Regions from separate parts of the Homo sapiens genome. Here region 2 is linked to region 1. The links come from fine-mapping of genetic effects on gene expression. A gene starts in region 1. The other region holds a variant in brackets. All regions are shown on one strand. Distances are between the middles of the regions.

Evidence for each region. PIP is the estimated chance that this variant, and not a neighbour inherited with it, causes the effect.
Region 2: its variant is the best candidate, but not a certain one, in a credible set for the expression of KLHL9 in whole blood (TOPMed, PIP 0.79).

What each region holds. Positions count from the first base shown.
Region 1 is chr9:21,334,143-21,337,066 of GRCh38, forward strand. It overlaps KLHL9 (kelch like family member 9), which reads right to left and starts at 1,262. Exons shown (of 1, transcript NM_018847.4): 1 at 1-1,262. The coding sequence starts at 717. It overlaps LOC107987053 (a long non-coding RNA gene), which reads left to right. Exons shown (of 3, transcript XR_001746634.2): 3 at 2,479-2,924. RefSeq lists enhancers at 692-741, 932-1,241 and a silencer at 1,282-1,451.
Region 2 is chr9:21,400,067-21,402,990 of GRCh38, forward strand. No RefSeq gene overlaps it. Among named protein-coding and RNA genes, the nearest start is that of IFNA8, 7.6 kb to the right of the region's middle. The variant A/G (reference allele first, on the strand shown) is at 1,128.

The DNA.
Region 1 (2,924 bases):
ATTCTTCATTAACTTTGCAGCATAATCCATCCGAGGGTCTTCCAACCTTAGCCAGCGACAGGCTGCCTTAAAGAGTTCAAGTTCGGTACAGTGCTTAAGACTATTACTGGAAAGCACAAATGCAAGTCGTTCAAAAGGGAGTTTTAGAAACTCCCCAGTACTCAATAAAGCAGGAAAGTTCTTCAGGATGAAATTATTAACATATTTATCCACTTCTATAAGATTGTAGGTGTTAGCAATTCGTCCAACCTCAACACAGTTATCCAAAGAGACTCCTGATATAAGAAATACTTTACAGAAATCCAAAACGGGTAATATTTGTAAAAAGCTAGCAGCTTCAAGTGTGTCCTGAAGATTGTCCATATTAAGAGAAAGTTTTGCAGTATAAATAAAATCAATGATTTTCTTCAGACCAACCTTGTTCACCCCATGAAGCTTAATGCACATCAAATCTTGTTCTTTCATTCCACCTGTGAACATGGCTTTGAAATAATCACTAGCAGACGCCATCATAGCTCTGTGAACAGGGAAGATTTCATCTCCATCACCTGGTACCAGGGTCACATCACAAAGCAATCCTTCTATTCTAAGCTGATCAAAGCCTTGCAATACCACCGAACTGTGAGTATTGCTGGTAAAAAAGCGTGTGGTTCCTGCCTTACAAGGCTGCAAATGGGCAGAGACGCCCATTTCGCCGTTACCAAGGGACACTTTCATGTGAAAGCTTTCCTCTTGCACAGAGATGCAAGCCGGATAAAGAAGTTATAACCGGAATGTTTTACAGGTAACGAGGTGTCCAGAAAGAACAGAAAGCTCGTTTCCTTATCAAGGGAAGGCAGTCACTGCGGCACCCCTCGGGCCACGCCAGTCAGTCATCCACTGAAAATCACCCTGTAGCAGGACCACAAAGGGCTGTGGACCTCAAATCTGATTATTAGACAGATGATTCATCACCTGAAGGCGGTTAAATGACCTGGTTCACCTCGTCCGGCCTGCGCTGCCGCTCCTTCAGCAGTTCCGCTTCGGGCAAGGAAGAGGCGCCGCCACGTACTGTGGCTCCACGGCCCGCTCGGCGGCGGGTCCGGACACCTCAGCGAACGGCCCGCTGCGCCCTCCGCTGTACCTAGAGTGTCGCAGCGGCCACCGGCCTGTCTTTGAGCAAGGGCCGGGAACACAGGCCTGGGCCTGGGCTTGGGCCTAGAATACCGGCCTAGCCCCAACACCGAGCCGCTCCTTCCGGAAAAGCCTAGTCCCAGGATACCACGGGGTGGGAGCGGCCTTAGCGGCTACTGCGGCTGCGCGGCCTCCAGACCTCGTCAGTCAGCGGGAGGGTGGGGGTGGGGAAGGGGGAGGAAGTACCCGGGAGGCGGGAGGGCGAGGGTTGGGGAAGCGGAGCTGTGTGGGGTGGGCGCCAGCCCGGCCTCTTAGAGCTGCCTTGTATGTGGGACCAAATAGGACAGAATGTGTGCAAGCAAGTGTGTTATGCTGCACGTTTGATATAAGTTTTTCGCATATCTGAGCTCTTACGTTCCCCAAATGCATAATTTTTCAAAGCTTTACGCTTCCTAGCTTCTGTTTTTTTGAATAACAGTGAAATGCGGCATTTGTATAAATTGAGAGGAAACCTGGATGCTTAATTTTTTTTTTCCTCTACAAAACAATAATTGTTATCCCACATTATGTAGTAGATACTTCAGTTACAATTTTGGTTCATATTTTCAAATTTGTTACAATTTCAAACGCAAAATATTTGTCTTTACTAGATTGTTACTTTATTATGTAAATGATATATTCTAAATTTTTGGCTTGAAATGCCTTTGTTTTCCACAATTTTAAAAATGGCTACATAATTTTCCAATAACTATACATACTATAGTTTCCTTTGCCCATTGGTTTGTTCCTGAATGTGTACCTTCTTATCCTCCATTGTTTTATAGACTCGGTAGTAAACTTATACAATCTGGTAGCAAAATTTTAGCCCTGTTATGGATAATATTTAGTAAAATACTGATCCAAGACAATATTTCCAAAATATTATCACCAACAATGTTTGTGTCTTTCCCTTCTTCTGACTTTTCCCTTTGTGAGTATTTTATTAACTTGCATTTCTTTAATTAGTGGTAAATTTAAATTTTGACATACAAATAAATGTATACTTTGACACAATTTCTTCCATTTTCCAAATTTTGAAGTTTCTGTCTTTTAAATCCTTCTAGTTCTTTATGCATATGCAAAGTAAGAATGTAGTCATGTTTTTCTTACACTCGCCTCGTTTTTATGTAAAAGATAGCATACCATGTACACTGTTCTGCATCTTTTTTTTTCACTTCAAGATCTTCCTGAATTAGTGTAGAGGGCTTATTTATATTTTTAAACAATTCTGTTGTTGCCTTCTGAGTTGTTACATCATAAGTTATTTAACCAGTGCCCTGTTGATGGGCAGTTCATCTGTTTTGAATGTTTTCTATTGTTTCCAAGGGATGGCAGCAAAATTCAGAAGGCTTAGACTACCACTGTCCTCCACAAGGTGCTCCAGCAGATTGTCACCTTATTCAACACAAGAGGTTGGTTGGAATGAAACTGGCCTGGAGAAATTATTCACTGAATTTTTATCAGCATTGGGAAGTCCTGGAGCCCTGCTTGTTGAATGAGTTAGGGGTGGAAGGGCTCTCTCAGGCCATGACAACTCCCTAATGCTGTGAAGAGCTACTTCCAAGGAATCAGTCTCTATCTGGAAAAGAAAGAAGAGAGCCTCTGTACATGGGAAGTTGGAGCAAGAAATCATGAGATCCTTCTTTTTTTCATCAAACTTGCAAGTAAGATTAATAGCTTAGGAACAGACTTGTGTCTTCATGAAATGATTACTATAGACACTCTTCATTATATTCCCATATGTTTAGTTATTTTAAAAGACTATCTTTTCT
Region 2 (2,924 bases), 66 kb after region 1:
GCAATGTGGGTTCAAGGATAATAAGACAGGATGATGATTGCCCTCCAGGGAGCAAAAGCCAGACATTAAAGACACGATTATGATTAATTAAGCACTAGCATTCTCAGTGCTGCCAAGAGGAAGTACTGAGAGCAAATCAAGAGGGGAGTTGGAGGCAGTAGAAAGCTCCACTTTCTGACAAAATCTGTGACTCTTAGCAAGTTAAACATCAGATTTTCATTTCCTCTTCTGAAAAATTCAGAATATTTTAGTAGTTGTCATATTAGAAACTGTAAAGATTAAATGAAATAAAGTTTGGAAATTACTGGCTGAGAATCTGAACATGATAAATTATAGTGATGTGGTTTGGCTGTGTCTCCACCCAAATCTCACCTTGAATTGTAATAATTCCCACATGTCAATAGTGGGGCCAGGTGGAGATAATTGAATCATGGGGGCAGTTTCTCCCATATTGTTCTCGTGGTAGCGAATAAGTCTCACAAGATCCAATGGTTTTATAAATGGGGGTTCTCCTCCCTGCACAAGCTCTCTCTTGCCTGCCACCATGTAAGACATGACTTTGCTCCTCATTCACCTTCCGCCATGATTGTGAGGCCTCCCCAGCCATGTGGAACTGTGAGTCAATTAAACCTCTTTCCTTTATAAATTACTCAGTCTTGGGTATGTCTTTAGTAGCAGCATGAGAACAGACTAATACAGATAGTAACCTTTAGTATAATCTATATAGTTTGCATTTGTGAACTATATAGAAAAAATATATATATACATACAACCATGTATTTATAATCTGTATAGTCCATATTCAACCAAGTCCATCCAAGAAAAGCTTTGATTGCAGCTCCCCTGACACTCTCAGGGTCTTGCACATTGGCGCCTCCTAAATGGAAACTCTAGGAGAGGAAATTGTCTGTAAGACTGGAAAATATTTTAAAGAAGTTTATTCTGAGCCAATATGAGTGACCATATCCTGGAGAAACAGTTTTAAGAGGTCCTGAAAAAGTGCACCCAAGGTGGTTGGGTTATAATTTGGTTTTAGACATTTCAGGGAGATACGAATTGCAGGTAAAATCATAAATCAATACATGGAAGGTATACAGTGGTTTGGCCAGAAAAGGCAAGACATCTCA[A/G]AGTGGGGATTTAAAAGTCACAGGTGGGTTTCAGGGATTCTTTAGCTGGCAATTGGTTGAAACAGTTAAGCTTTGTCTAAAGACTTGAAGTCATTAGAAAAGAATGCTTAAATTAAGATAAATGGGTCTGCAATCTGCCATATGGTATTATATGAGAGTTAGGTTAGAAAGTGAGCCACATTTTACTGGGTTAATTTTTAAAAATCCATTTAAGGAGATTTTATGGTTTGCAGTACATAACTCTCGCCTTGCATGGCCTTAGGTCTTGCTTATAATTTGGTATCTTATTGCCACAAAGTCTGTTTTGTCTTATTATCTCTCTTATAACATCAATGCTGGCCAGTTTGTGTCCATACTCCAAAACGGAGGGGGATATAATGAGGCGTGTCCATCCTGCTTCCCATCATGGTTGAGAATTCAGTTAAGGTTTTTAGGGGTTCCATTGGCCAAAAGGGGGCATGTTCAGCCAATGGGTGGCTTAGTATTTTATTTTTAGTTTTAGTTTATAACTCTATATCTATATATATATGTAAGTATATGTAGAATATATACTTACATTTTATATATTATGGGTATTTAAATATATAAATATATACATATGTTATAATTTTATATAAAGTATATGCTGAAATATATAAATATGTATACGTAAGTATTTAAATGTACAGAAACACACATATAAAATAGATCAATATAAAAATATATATCCTTTATATATTTAAAATATATACTTAAATTATCAACTCAAATACTATTTTAATACAATATTAAAATTGGAAATTAATGCCTAAACATCCATGATGAGGCAAATATCAAAATTTTAATTAAGTAAAGGCAGGAAATGTAAGATGACCCTGAGGGTCTTACAAAGGAGAGGGGCCAGTGTAACAAATTATGGCAAACTCCACTCAGGCTATAAAATTCTTACCCTAGAAAATAAAAAGTTCTGACCTGCTCCTCTACTCTTTGTAGGCAACACTGCTCATTTCTCTTTTCAGCAACACAAGTCAAGGTGGGGTCTTGAGGAAGGGCTTTCAGTAAACCAAAGTTAAATAAAATTATCTCAGTGTCACTGAGTCACTGGAAATGTCAGACATGGCACTTCTCCCAGATAAAACAAAGTAGGGATCTTGAAAGCATTGCTGAGTTTGCTTCCTTTAAAGCTAGGGAAGTAAGATCACAACATTCTTGTTTTGGTATAAAGTATTTAAAATAATGCTGTTGAGTTTTAACATACCTGAATTATGGTTTCAGCGACACTGGCGTCTGAAGCTGAAAGCTTAGCTCCTGGCACACCCTGGGGCAGGCACGGGCGCCTCTCTGCTCCTGGCCCGGTGCGCGGCGTCCCCAGCCCCGGGCGCTCCCAGGACCCGTCCGCTCGCCCCAGGGTCCAGCGTGTCCCCTTCCCCAAGACGTCCCCGCCCTGCGCCCCCACACAAACGGAATCCCCAAGATTAAACCCGTGCGATCTCGAGCCCTCAAGTCCCGGAATCAACGGGTCCCTCTGTAAAAACAAGTCTCGCTGAAGTCTCTATGGGAAATAAAAGCCCCAAACCCAGGGGAAAATCCCGAAAATAAAAGGTGCCCTGCTGGCTACCTGAGGAAGATGTCTCAAGGGAGACCACGGCGGAGCTGCCTCCTGAGCAGCAAAAGAGATTTTTTTACTCAGGTCGAAGCTGCACAAAGTTGGCGCGATAAGCCGCGACGACGTTTCCCTGGGGCTGCGGGACGCCCCGAAACTCAAACCCGCGGTTCCCAAATCCTGGGCATCAGGAAAACCCATTCTGGCGCCTTGCT